Linked DNA regions of Homo sapiens. The protein of the gene in region 3 purifies or fractionates together with the protein of the main gene of each other region. This does not show direct contact. Each region holds a gene or a part of one and is shown on either strand. Other genes may lie near its edges.

Evidence for each region.
Region 1: the proteins of FEZ1 (region 3) and MRS2 purify together in Homo sapiens (co-immunoprecipitation; 3 studies listed by BioGRID and IntAct, with this or other methods). This does not show direct contact.
Region 2: the proteins of FEZ1 (region 3) and IFT140 purify together in Homo sapiens (affinity purification with mass spectrometry; 2 studies listed by BioGRID and IntAct, with this or other methods). This does not show direct contact.
Region 4: the proteins of FEZ1 (region 3) and NELFA purify together in Homo sapiens (affinity purification with mass spectrometry; 2 studies listed by BioGRID and IntAct, with this or other methods). This does not show direct contact.

What each region holds. Positions count from the first base shown.
Region 1 is NC_000006.12:24,419,936-24,423,346, reverse strand, and holds part of MRS2 (magnesium transporter MRS2 homolog, mitochondrial isoform b precursor), read right to left. Parts: intron 411-3,411; coding exon 297-410; coding exon of another isoform or gene 291-296; exon of another isoform or gene 1-290. UniProt on the Homo sapiens protein: Magnesium transporter that mediates the influx of magnesium into the mitochondrial matrix and regulates magnesium metabolism. Also permeable to calcium, sodium and potassium ions.
Region 2 is NC_000016.10:1,584,539-1,588,072, forward strand, and holds part of IFT140 (intraflagellar transport protein 140 homolog), read right to left. Parts: intron 3,487-3,534; coding exon 3,395-3,486; intron 2,767-3,394; coding exon 2,660-2,766; intron 2,648-2,659; exon of another isoform or gene 2,591-2,647; coding exon of another isoform or gene 2,557-2,590; intron 1,738-2,556; coding exon 1,592-1,737; intron 1-1,591. UniProt on the Homo sapiens protein: Component of the IFT complex A (IFT-A), a complex required for retrograde ciliary transport and entry into cilia of G protein-coupled receptors (GPCRs).
Region 3 is NC_000011.10:125,486,249-125,489,782, reverse strand, and holds part of FEZ1 (fasciculation and elongation protein zeta-1), read left to right. Parts: 5' UTR 1-5; coding exon 6-316; coding exon of another isoform or gene 317-320; exon of another isoform or gene 321-1,584; intron 1,585-3,534. UniProt on the Homo sapiens protein: May be involved in axonal outgrowth as component of the network of molecules that regulate cellular morphology and axon guidance machinery.
Region 4 is NC_000004.12:1,988,441-1,991,974, forward strand, and holds part of NELFA (negative elongation factor A), read right to left. Parts: intron 3,276-3,534; coding exon 3,104-3,275; intron 1,430-3,103; coding exon 1,268-1,429; intron 1-1,267. UniProt on the Homo sapiens protein: Essential component of the NELF complex, a complex that negatively regulates the elongation of transcription by RNA polymerase II.

The DNA.
Region 1 (3,411 bases), on a different chromosome or scaffold from region 3:
GAATTACTAACATCTGTTTAAATGTATGTTGTCAGAGTTCTACACAAATTATATTTCTAACTTATTGTGTTAGGCAGTGTGCTAGTAAGTGCTTTACACATATTGTTTAATTCTTCCCATAACCCTATGAAGCAGGTAATACCGACTTAACTGACAGATAGGGAAACTGAAGGAAGTTTGAGAAAGCAACTCGCAAGGGCCATAGTGCCTGTGACAACTTAATCCCAGGCGCTCTGACTTTAGGGCCCATGATCATAACCCTTCCACAATACCGCCGTGAACCATATCCTTCATACCATAGGAGGCAATGGAGCTTCTAGCTGTCGTCCAAGGAATGAAAGCAGGCGCCTCCAGATGAGGCCACTTCCCATGAACATAATTCCTGTAATCAGCCAAAAAATTCTATGGTCCTAAAAGAGAACACAGTTCATTTCCATCGCAAAACGCCAGGTTCCTTAGAAGATTCCTTGAATTGTTACTGCCCCAGAGTTTGAAAGCCTTATGTTATTTGTACAGCTCTTTCCTGTAGAAAGGAACTAAGAAAAACAAGGGCCTTGATAGCACCCACAGAATAAAGCAGGAGAAGAACATGATTTAAAAGGTTTTAAATATTTTAAAATCATCTATATGCCAAATGTACTGCTTTTACTTTGTGTTTCTTTGCAGCCTTTGTTTACATGCGTGCAAATCTTAAGTCATGATGCCAGAGGACACGCAATTTAAGGTCTTTGCTTATATCCACAGTTCTCAAACTGTGAGCTGAATGTCTGGTGCTATGCTGGGCACGATAGCACCTCAGAATATTTTAAAGTTGCAAGGGAAATAACATAAAGGAATCTGTAACATAATAAATTTTTTGTCTTCCGATACTGTGAAAAAATTACTAAGACACTAAGGGCATCGTGATCCAAGGAAGTTTGGGAACCTCAGACTTAGAAAAACATTCTTCCTCACCGTCATTTTCAGAGTGGTAATATTTTGCAGCACACTGTTTTTAGTTAATGTACAGAATCACAGAATTTAAATTTAATCTCTCACAAGGAAGGAATCCCATTTATAGCTATGCTGTTATCATTGGCTCCAATGATTGAGAGCTCACTTCCTCAAAGATAGCCTGTTACACAACTGATCAGCTATCACTGATGGAAATGCATGTCACTTATTGAACAGAAATCTGCCTCCTCTTTTTGTTGTTGTTGAGATGGAGTCTTGCTCTTCACCCAGGATGGAGTCCAGTGGCTCAATCTTGGCTCACTGCAACCTCCGTCTACCTGATTCAAGCGATTCTTGTGCCTCGGCCCCCCTGAGTAGCTGGGATTACAGGTGTGCGGCACCATGCCCAGCTAATTTTTGTATTTTTAGTAGAGATGGGGTTTCACCATGTTGGTCAGGCTGGTCTCGAACTCCTGGCCTAAAGTGATCTGCCCACCTTGGCCTACCAAAGTGCTGGGATTACAGGTGTGAACCACAACCCCCAGTCCTATATGCAATATGTGATCTAAGATTTTCTTTGTGATAAAAAGCACTACTGAGATAAGTGGCAAAATCTGAGTAGGGTCTTTAGATTGGAAAATAACTTCAGTATTAACTTCCTGATTTTGATAGCTGCACTGTGGTTATGTAAGAGGATGTCCATGTTTTAGGAAATACGTATTAAGACATTTAGGAGTAAAGGAACATCACATTTGTTCTTAGTCTCAAATAATTTAGAGAATAAAGTATGCTAGCAAAGAAATGATAAAGCAAATGTGATAAAATGTTGATATTTGGAATCTGGTTTAAGAAAATGGAAATTCTTTGACTATTCTTGGAACTTTTCCAGAAGTCTGAAATTATCTTAAAATATTTTTCCTATCTCAGATTCACCATGGCAAATATTAATTTTAACTATATCGAAATAAAGACATTTGACATCCATGGATTTAATGTTTTCAACTATTCTTCAGGACACCTACAAAGATGTGTAATTTGTAATTCTGATAAGACATTAATTTGAATCTTTTCAGCCTACTACTGAGCAAGCGTAGCTCACTACCACCTACCACTCTTATCTCATTACAAATGGGCTGTGCTGTACCTAGGATTGCACATACTAAAACTATAAGAAAGGAATTTGAAAAATCTTCCATTGTTTTGAAAAGTTGGCAATTAAGTGAGAGAAAAATATCAAAGTATAAAATGGAGTTAGCTTGTAGATTGAGTATATATACATAAACATGATTATGTATTTAGAGAAAAGACAGGGACTTGTAGAGAAAGTCCTGTAGTCACACTTAGGGAATCTGTAAAGGTCTTTGGATGTATCTTTTGAGAATGTCAATGGCTGGATTATGTTGCACAAGGTATTCTGCTTGCTTCTGAACTTTCCAATGATCTAGATTTGAGTTCAAACCTCCAGTGGGTTCCTATCCCACTTAGAAATCCAAACCCCTACCACGCTCTACGTCACTGACATGATCATACTTATCTGCATCTGGGACCTCATTTTCCACCTGACTCATGCTCTTCTAACCATTCCAACCTTCTTGCCATTTCATGAACAAGCTCAGATCGTTCCTGCCTCAATCTTTACTTCTGTGGTTCCCTCTACTTAGAACACTCTCCCCCAGATCTTCCTGCCTCCACCAGGGTGTTACCGCCTTACATCTTCCTTGACCACCCTATCTCTAAAATGCCACACATCCTACTGCCTAACATTCTCTATCCGCTTCTCTGGCTTTATTTTTCTCTGAGGCACTTAGCACTTAACATACTTTGTTTGTTTATGAACTCTCTCCTCCACTACAATATAACCTACGCAAGGGCAGACTCACTGCTAAATGGGCCTAAAGCAGTGCTTGGTATATAACAGGCAATAAAAAAACGTATTTGTGAGATGAATGAACACATGTATTTCCTTTTCTTTTATACTTTACATTAAAAATGACTAATACTGTCTTTGCTTCAAGGAGCTCATGCTCTTTTGCAGGCTTTGAACAAGGGATTGCAGATTTAAGGAATGTAGCAGATGGAAGGGTAGGATTATTTGGGCGCAGACGACAAAGTAACTTTACTGGGCCAGGTTGTCGGTGCATTCAGTGAAGGGACAACTACTTTGAGACCTGAAAGATGAGGAGGAAGTAACTAAGCAAAACGGGGATCTGAGGGGAGAGGAGTGGAAGCAGCATGTCTGGGAAGGACACTGAGAGAGGTAGTAACAAGTGGCTACCCACAAGATGGACAAGTCGGTGCGGCAGGACGGGATTTTTATCCTAAGGCTAATCAAAAGCCATTGAATAGTTGTATGCAGAAGGGTGTCATAATACTTACATCTTATAAAGACCACTTTTTAAAAGGGCATAGTGGTCCTAATGGGAGGTGATGTGGGCAACAGAGTAGACTCGTTAGACTAATGAGGACACAGAATCCAGC
Region 2 (3,534 bases), on a different chromosome or scaffold from region 3:
CCGGACTTAAAAAATGATCTTATAAGACATTATAAGAAAAGTCTTATAAAGGTAAAGAGTATGCTGTGTAGAAAGACTTCAAGATACTGATGCTCAAGGGTTGTGATTGGACAGGCAGCACTGGTATGTCTGTTCTGATGGGAAGAGCGTTTTCTAGAGTTTTTCTGAGTGGGACACACTTTTCTGAGTGTGACATAGGGATGTTTATGTTTTTTATAAACAGACAGGAAGTTTACATAATGGATTAAATTATCCAGCTTTCTTCTGCTGATGTGAAATGTTGGTTTCATAATTTTATATTAAACTTCTAAATCTATCTAAAAATAAATAAAGACCTATGCAAAATAGGAAAGTATAAATTCCATATAGGAAAAAACCCAGACATCAGAAACTGCTCTGAAAGGGCTCAGATGTTGGACTTAGCAAAGACTTCAAAGCAGCCACTGGAAACGTGGTGAAGGAGCTGAAGGAAACCAGCCTGGTGAAGTGAAGGAAGCTACAACGACAGTGTCTCATCAGGTAGAGAACAGGAACAGAGAGAAATCATAAGAAAGAACCAAATGCTGCAGAGAAATTAAAACATCCTCACACAAAAACGTGTACACAAGTGTTCGTAACAGCATTATTCAAATGTCCATCAACTGATGAATGGAGAAAGAAAACGTGGTCTGTTCACAGCAGAGAATGTGATTCAGCCATGAAAAGGAGCAAAGCATTGACACAGGCTACAATCTGGAGGGGCCTTGAAACCTCAGCTCAGTGGGAGCAGCCGGGCACAAAAGACCAGGTGTTGTGTGATTCCATTTCCATGAAACATCCAGAATGGGCAAATCCTTAGAGAGAGGAGGTAGATTAGTGGCTGCCAAGGGCTGGAGAGGGGAAAATAAGAGCGACCACTAAAAGGTACAGATTTTTTGTGGCGCTGAAACTGTTCTAGAATTCACTGCAGTGATGTTTGTAAAATTGTGAATATACCAAAAACCACTTTGTATATATCATGAGTTATATCTCAGTAAAGCTCTTTTTCATACAGATAGAGAGAGATGGAGAGGGAGGGATGGGTTCGTGGGTAGATACATATTATAACTAATACAGGTCCACAATCTCTTATCTGCAATTCTGAAATCCAAAAGGTCTTTTAAAATGTCTTATTATTGTTATTTTCACATAGTCTTAAGTTGAATAACTGATAAAAATAGGTTCAGAGTCATTTATGGCCTCCACTTTCTTTTTTTTTTTTTTTTTTTTTTGAGACGGAGTCTCACTCTGTCTCCCAGGCTGGAGTGCAGTGGCACAATCTCGGCTCACTGCAAGCTCCAGCTCCTGGGTTCACGACATTCTCCTGCCGCAGCCTCCTGAGTAGCTGAGGCTACAGGCGCCCGCCACCACGCCCGGCTAATTTTTTGTATTTTTTAGTAGAGACAGGGTTTCACCGTGTTAGCCAGGATGGTCTCGATCTCCTGACCTCATGATCCACCCGCCTTGGCCTCCCAAAGTGCTGGGATTACAGGCGTGAGCCACCGCGCCCGGCCATGGTCTCCACTTTCATGCAGCAGAAAATGAGTGCACCGAACACCCTTGGAGGCTGTACCTGGATTTGCGTGATGTTTCCTTGGAGCTCGGTAGGGGTCTGAAGGGCCCACCTGTCCTTGCCCTCTGCCCCGGGGCTGCCCAGGAAGTCTGGTACTTTCCTCCACATGGCTACTCGCCCTCTGTCGGTACCAGCGGCCAGAAGACCTACAGGTAGAAACAAACTGCATGTGAACAGAGTTAAAAAAAGGGAACAAAACAGCAACAAGCTCTGTTCTCTAACCCCCTTCTTCAAAGCATCAGCCCTCGCCCAGTCTGGTGCCTCTCCACCTCATCCCTGGCTGCATCTTTCTGCCCAGGTCCTTGCTGCCCTGACCTCACAGTGCCAGTGCGGGGGTGGTGGGGGATGCTGCTCTCCCAGCTTTCCTAGAGGCCAGTTGGCCTGGCTCGGGGCTGCCCCATGCTCAGCACTCAGCAGGCACTAGAGACGCGGCTCTGGCTCACCTCCTAGTCTCCTGTGCTCTGGATGTGCATATGCACACATACACACACATGCATGCACACACACACACACACACACACTTCCTGCACTGTCCTTCCCGTGGCATTTCAGGAGGGAACAGAGATCAATGAGCAGGAATCGGTTTGCTTCTTGTTAGATGGGGTCACGCTCTGTCACACAGACTGGAGTGCACTGGCACCATCTTAGGTCACTGCAGCCTCAACCTCCCAGGCTCAAGCAATCCTCCCACCTCAGCCTCCTGAGTAGATGGGACCACCGCTGTACACCATCACACCTGGCTAATTTTTGTATTTTTTGTGGAGACGGGGTCTCACTATGTAGCTCAGGCTGGTCTTGAACTCCTGGGCTCAAGTGATCCTCCCTCCTCAGCCTCCCCAAGTACTGGGATGCAGGTTGTCATGCTTCTAACCAAACCCCCTGGCCTTCATGTGGGATCACAAAGCTCTGCCGTTGCTTGCTTGCCCTTGCCCGACTATTTGAATGGCTGTGAGTTACCAAGTTACCATTGTGTGAGTAGCCTCCACGTTTCACTACCATTATTTTGCAGCCGGCGCACAATGCTTGTGGTTGGTTCTGTTTCTCTTGTGCCAGGCCAGGAAGCCTCACCTTTGACTTTACAGTAACACACACAGTTCATATTCTCTCCTTTCTCAAAGCCAAACTTCTCATCTGGACTCAGTATATAATTCTCTCCTCGTTCTATGTCCCAGAATCTACAACAGAAGAAAGCAAGCCCCATGGAGGGCCTGTGTTAGTGGCGTTTCCCTCTGAGGGGTTTTTGAACCTGTGGAGCAAACATTAAAAGTCAGGAAAAAGACATAGTTCATCAGACTCCTGATATGAAAACGAACACTGCTGTTACATTTGGGACATTTTATGTCCTGTTTCTAATGAAAGAAAGCCGTTGCCGATAGATGGTGGTTTGTATATGGCAGGAGGTCGCCAAGAGAACACAGGAATTGCAGCCCCACACAGAGCACGAGATGGCCCCGGACAGCACACTGAGCTAACGCAGCAGGCAGCAGAGACCACAACGACTGATTCTAGTTATGCCACACTCCGAAAAACCAGGCAAAGAGATTCCACGGGCAAACACCAAGGCAGGGCCACCTGGGGGTAAGGGGAGCCCCGAGGGAGTGCAGTGGGGCGGGCAGGGACTCTTGGGGTCTCTTAATGCTCAGCTCCTCAGTCTGGGAGCTGGTGAATGGGTACGTCCAGTATGAGAGCACTCAGCATCATATGTGCATTTTACATATGCTCCATTCCAACACAAAGCTGACTTAGAGGAGCCTGTTCCTCAGGGAACTCTCATCAAGGGGCACTGGAAAGGCAGACTCTCACCTGAGGGCAGCCTCCCCGACGGCCATCACGAGAAGGCTGCCTTCAATCAAAGCGATGTCTGCCCGGCGGCCGGTTTTCCCGCTCAGCTTGACCTGTGTGAGGAAACAACCGAGCAGAGGCACCGTGCTTGCTGAGACGGC
Region 3 (3,534 bases):
CAAGAATGGAGGCCCCACTGGTGAGTCTGGATGAAGAGTTTGAGGACCTTCGACCCTCCTGCTCGGAGGACCCGGAGGAGAAGCCCCAGTGTTTCTATGGTTCATCTCCCCACCATCTCGAGGACCCCTCCCTCTCCGAGCTTGAGAATTTTTCTTCCGAAATAATCAGCTTCAAGTCCATGGAGGACCTCGTAAATGAATTTGATGAGAAGCTCAATGTCTGCTTTCGGAACTACAACGCCAAGACCGAGAACCTAGCTCCCGTGAAGAACCAGTTACAGATCCAAGAGGAGGAGGAGACCCTTCAGGACGAGGAGTAAGAAGTCTTAATTGCCCTCTCCTGCTTCAGTCGAGAGCCCTGTAGTCCTTGTCTCCTTGACATAGTGCTGGTTTCTGTCTATAGGTTTATGGGCTATTACTTTCATTTTCGTGTTGCCAGCGGAGCAGTGCCCTGGTACTTGCTGTCATAGCTCTATATATGTCCCTTTACAGTCCCCTGAGGAGAACTTTCTTAAATTGAAACCTTAGAGGAATGAAGGTTTTCCTAGATACAAAATGGAATTTCAGGAGCACAGTAAATTTCAGGGTCTGTCTATCTTAAGCTTTCTTTATATCAGTGGAAATCCAGCGAGATATTAGAAATAAAGGCCAGAAAAAATTAATTAACCATGATGGATGAATCTATGTTATTGGACTAATTTGCTTCAAGAAACACCAGAATTTTGAAAATCCCGAATTTTTGACAGCCCCTCAGGCCTGGAGAGTTATCTACAGATGTTAGGATATGTCCACATAAGAAAGCATCTAAACTGAACTGAGAGCACAGCGGGCTACCCTGGACAAAGTAAAGGTGGAAACTAGGTGATGTGGCCTTTGAGTATGCAGATTCCTTGTATCACTTGCTCGCTACTTTCTAGGGTCTTAATAGTAGTCAAGAAAAGGGATCTGAGAAAAGTACTCTTTCAGGAGGGACTAGAAAGAGAAGGGGGTGATATGTTACACAAATTAAAGAAGGATGTCTTAGGCATTTAGTAAAAATTCAGTGGTTCCCCGCTATCCTCGGGGGATGTGTTTTTTTGTTTTGTTTTGTTTTGTTTTTTTTTGAGATGAAGTTTCATTCTATCGCCCAGGCTGGAGTGCAATGGCACAATTTTGGCTCACTGCAACCTCCACCTCCCAGGTTCAAGCTATTCTCCTGCCTCAGCCTCCTGAGTAGCTGGGACTACAGGTGTGCGCCACCATGCCCGACTAATTTTTGTATTTTGAGTAGAGATGGGAGTTTCACCATGTTGGCCAGGCTGGTCTCGAACTCCTGACCTGGTGATTTGCCCGCCTTGGCCTCCCAAAGTGCTGGGATTACAGGCGTGAGTCACCACACCTGGCCCATGGTGGGGGATATGTTTTAAGACCCCCAGTTAATGCCTGAAACCGCTGCTAGTACCAAACCCTAATGTTTTTTCCTGTATGTACGTACATATGATAAAGTTCAGTTTATAAGTTAGGCACAGTAAGAGACTAACAACAGCTCACAGCAAAATAGAGCAATTATAACAATATATTGTAATAAAAATTATGTGAATGTGGTCTCTCTTTCTCTCTCTCTTTCAAAATATTTCATTGTACTGTACAGCAGATAACCGAGCCCTGGGAAAGCAAAACCACAGATAAGGGGGGACTACTGTCTACATGAGTTCCCTGCAGAGATACAATATGCATCCATTGTTCTTAGCTATCACACAAGAAATGTCAAACGTCAGGGAAGTCTGAAGCACCTGTGCTTTTGTTTCCCTTTTTGTGGATTTGAGTGGGAAGAATGGCCCACAAATAATGGGGTAAGAGGCACGTCCTAGAGGATTGGAACCTGACTGTATTTGGGAGAGGGTTGCTTATTTGATGACTACTGTAAGACTCTACTTTTACACATAGAGGGGCCAAATATCTGTCTGATTCACTCTTACAGCCCCACTGTCTAATACAGTGCAATGTGCAAATAATATTTTTGAATGAAATATTGAATATCAAATAAACTAGATGAGTGATAATAGCTAGTAGCCTTGTATGTACATGTAATATATTTCTAAGCCCACACCATTTCCTTCTTTTCTTTTTAATTAATGCTGGCCGGAAGGTATGATCACAGAGAACATTTCATTCTGCTGACTAGTACTATAGCTGTGGGCTATGTGTTTAAATTTTAAGTTTCAAACAGATTCTTTTTAGATTCTGAGCCTGTTATCTGCTCAACATTTATAAGTCAAAAAAGAATGGCTCTGGGGGTTTATTATGCCGAATATTTTTTCGTTCTAGTGCACCAGCCAATGAACTAGAAATACAAAGACTATGAATTCTAATTTTGGTACTCTCTCTAACTCGCTGTGTGACCTTGGGCAAGTCATTTAACCCTGGTTGACTGTGTAGGTCCTCATCTATGAAACCTCCAGAGCTCAATCTTGATGAAGTGAGGCTAAGGACTTGTAAAGAACCTAATTTCTTACCTCACCCAGGATGCCCAGGTGCTCTGAAAATGACATTTCAAGATGCGTCCCATTCCTTTTGCTTCCAACAAATCATTTCCCCCCTATCAAAACCCCTCCTCTGCCTCATTAAGGATGAAGGCCCAATGAGCAGATTCTTACTGTCTTCTAGCACATTAGAAGAGGCCACTCAATGTTAATTACCATCACATGGGATTATTGGCCTCCTCAGCCTGATTTTTCTGACTTGACTGCCTCATTGACTGCCTCAGTTAAGAGACCAAAGATTGAATAATTCCTTCGAGATAAGGTATAATTTGGGGACAGTGTAGCGGGAGGAAGCTGGGAAGAGAAAAATTAACACAACACTTTCTAGGCATTCAGTTCTAACCCCTCTTTATAATTTAAAATAAAAATCAGAATTCTGTTACACACTTTGTTTCATAGACACTATCCAGATATTTCAACTGTGAAATTATGGCTAAGTAAAGGAAAAGGGTGACTTAATATCTCACCTGACTACACTTCTCCTGAACATAGCTCTAATGTTATTGTTATAAACTTGTTCCGGTTTAGTATTTAGAGGGCTGTTTCATCCACAAATGAGTGAAAAGTGCTGTGGATGGGTTAGAGGTAAATAATAGAAGCTTAAAACAAAAGCAGGGAAATACTTGGTTAAACTGCCTCCTTAAAGACAGCACAAATCATAGAGCAAATGTAGTGATTCCCTTAGAAGCTTTCTTTAGTCTTCATTTGGAACTATTTAGCCAAGAGGGGAGTTGGCTAAGATTTGTCAACTTATCTCTGATCTGTCAGGGCATGGAAGTTCTAGGCATTAAAGGAGAGTCAGATTTGAATACACATTTTTTGGTTTTGCATTCAAGAAATATCCCAGAATCTCTTCTTTGTGTATATGTGACCACCCTCTTCCTTTGCCATAAGAGATTGGGCCTGGAGGTCACAGCCTCTTAGGGGTCACTACAAAATGGAAATTGACGGCCCTCAGCTTACCTCCTACGTCACTGGGGATCCCTATCAGCCCTCTTACGAGTACCCTGAA
Region 4 (3,534 bases), on a different chromosome or scaffold from region 3:
AGGGGACACCGAGTGCCCAAAGCAGACCCTGTGGCCACTGCTGGCCTCCAAAGGGGGTGGGGCCCAAGGGGCCAGCAGAGTCCTTCCTGGGCTACCCAGTGGGCCCGGGGCTGCACGGAGCCTCCCGGACAGCGCTGGGCCCTGGCTGCTGCCCGTTCCAGCCAAGATCCATGCACAGCTGCTGTCAGCCTTTTATTTGGATTCTCTGGAAACGGGGTATTGATGTACATTATAAATATTAATTCCATAACCATTCAAAATAAAACGATGTTATTGAAATCTTTGTCGTGCTTTGGGAAAACGTTAACTGAAATGATTAAATATCTTTCAAGTGGAATTGAGATCACCCGCCACTCCAGAAGGCAGCAACGTGAGAGTAAGGAACGTGCCCCTCCAGCCATTCACCCTGGCACCCACCGTGCCCAACAGCGTGACTCAGCTGGCACAGAGTTCATTTGGTCACAGAGATTAGAGATGCCTTCACCTAAAATTCTGAAGTTGGTGGGTTTTTTTTTTTTTTTTGAGATGTTGTTTCGCTCTTGTTGCCCAGGCTGGAGTGCAGTGGGGCAATCTTGGCTCACTGCAACCTCCGCCTCCCAGGTTCAAGTGATTCTCTTGCCTCAGCCTCCCAAGCAACTGGGATTACAGGCATGCACCACCACAGCCAGCTAATTTTTGTATTTTTAGTAGAGACGGGGTTTCACCATGTGGGCCAGGCTGGTCTCGATCTCCTGACCTCAGGTGATCTGCTGGCCTCAGCCTCCCAAAGTGCTGGGTTTACAGGTGTGAGCCACCATGCCCAGCCTAAATTCTGAAGTTTTTAAAGCATGTTTTCAGAACATAAAGTTTAATATAGTGATAAACTTCTAACAAAAAACTTTATGCAGAACTTTATCTTCTTTTTCTTGAGACAGGGTCTCACTCTCTCCCAGGCTGGAGTGTAGTGGTGTGATCACAGCTCACTGCAGCCTCAACCTCGTGGGCTCAGGTGATCCTCCTACCTCAGCCTTCCGAGTAGCTGGGAGCACAGGCACGCACCACCATGCCCGGCTAATGTTTTGGTACTTTTGGTAGAGATGGGGTTTCTTGGCTGGTCTCAAACTCCTGGGCTCAAACGACCCACCTGCCCCAGCCTCCCAACAGGTGTGAGCCACCATGCCTGGCCCAGAACGCCACCTTGAAGGGGCAGTCTTGGTACCTTAGAACCTAAGAAACCTATGACTGGAAACTACAAAGACAATGCCCGATGGCGGCCGCGGCCACTCACACTTCTGCAGCAGCTCCGCCCGCAGCGTGGCGCTCTTGGGTTTCCGCTTTAACTGAAAATGCTTCACCGGGGGAGTGAGGGGTCCCGCGAGGGTCGTCAGGGCGTTTTTGTTCAAGTACTGGCACTCCAGTGGCAGCATGGCAGACGCTTCACACTCACCCACTGCCGGTAAGAACCACATGAAGTTAGGGGCGCCCAGGCCGCAGACCTCCCGGCTGAGAGGAGCTGGCGGCTGCCCAGCCCCACACCCTCCTCAGTTAGGGTTAGGTCATGGGAGCTTCGGCTGTCCCCTGAGGTCCTCGAGACTGACTCCCCACGGCTCCAGCAGAACACCCAGGAGCATTTGCAGAACAGGAATGCCTGAGAGGCGGGCATGCCTTGAGAGGGCTGTAAACTGGAAACCTCTGGCACCGCGGACACCAAGAACCACAGGCGGACATAGATACAGTGATTCCTGGAGGGCTCCAGACACTTGTAGAACATGAAATGTTAACAGATCCCACCCCCACGTAAGAAGGACCCCCGATCTGTGGCTTCTCTCTTCCCGTCCCCGAGGGTAGCCAGGCTGGTGGTCTCTCCTGGAACCCTGGCCCTCATCCAAACTGCCCACATCCATTTCCTCAGCCTGTGTGCTCACCCACGGTTCAGATCCCAGAAACTGCCCCACGAGGGACAGGCGACCTCCCACCTGAACTGGCTACGTGCCCCACCTGGAGAAAAAGCACAGGCAGGCACATGAGAGTTCACCGGCCTCAGCCTTCCTGCCCGCGGGACACTCCTGAGACACGAACGGGTGGGGTGGGGTGGACCTGTCCAGACCACTGCTCCAGAGGCATCTGTGTGGTGTGTGTGACCTCACAGGTGGGGAGAGGTGCCACTTGCAGGGGGGTGGCCAGCAGGGCCCCTGCAGGAGTGTGCAGCCTCGATGTCTCCATCCCACAACCCTGTCTCTCTGGGTGCTGCCCTTGAAGGAGCTGGGGCACAACGTTTGGGCTCTGAGGAGCCAGTTCCAATTGTCCAAAGCAGGAGAGAAACTCAGAAAAGCACAAGCATCAAGCATCCCATCAAGACATGTTCTTCAAATCCATCTACAAATAGTTGTTTCTTTTAAGAGATACATTCTCACCCTGTTACCCAGGCTGGAGTGCAGTGGCGCGATCATGGCTCACTGCAGCCTTGGCCTCCCAGGCTCAAGTGATCCTCCTGACTCAGCCTCCCAAGTACCTGGGAGGACAGGCATGTGCCATCACGCCCACCTAATTTTTATTTTTTGTACAAATGGGTTCTTGCTATGTTTCCCAGGCTGGTCTCGAACTCCTGGGCTCAAGCAATCTGGCCATCTCAGCCTCCCAAAGTGCTGGGGTTACAGGAGTGAGCCACGGAGCCCAGCCTTGTGAATATTTTCTAAGTGACTTTCAGTTCACATTTAAACAACTAAATCGTTGATATTTTCAACATGCATTTCTGAGCATGTACTCTGGGCCAGGGAATGCTCTGGGCCCTAGAACCTAGGATCTACAGATACCACCTGAATGGGCAGAGCCCCTACCCTCACGGAGCCGACCAGAGAGAGACGGCGAGTGGCGTGACACAGCCTCCCACTGACACCGCAGCAGTGAGGATGGGGCCTGTGGGCTGTTTGGAGTTTGTTTTCAAAGATGGCAAAAGCCAGGCAGCAGCTTACGGGGGAGGATGGTGCATATACAGTTAATATTCTAGGGACCAGGACACACGGAAAAACGTAAAGGTCTAAAAATCAAATTCATTTCAGAAAAAAATTTTTCAAGAAAGATCCATTTCCCTCCACCCAACATGAATTAAAGCAGCACAACATACCCTTTTCTCTAAGTTCTCCCAAAATATCCTGAACGTTGGGATTCTGCTCCTCCAGCTCCAGGTTAAGCGAGCCTGTGTCCGGAAAGGACTTCAAGATGTCGGCGACCATGAGCACCCAGGGGTCCGAGTCGAGGCTGGCGAGCTGGATGATCTCCATTAGGGCGCCCTTCATCTGCAAAATAGGATGCTGCCGGCGCCACCATGCCCCTGCCCACTTCCAAGCCCACTCCCTGCTGAGCTTCCGGATGGGCACTGGGCAGTGGCCGGGCTCTCTGGCAGTTGCCCCCAACACTTCCTCCTGAGGGCTCCCCTTCCTCTGAGCCCCCCGCCTCACCCCAGGGCCACCTTGCTTCCCTGAGCAGCACAGCCTCTGCCAGGTTGCAAGGCCCCGGCATCCGGTGCCCTCCCAGCAGCCTCCCACCTCCCAGCAG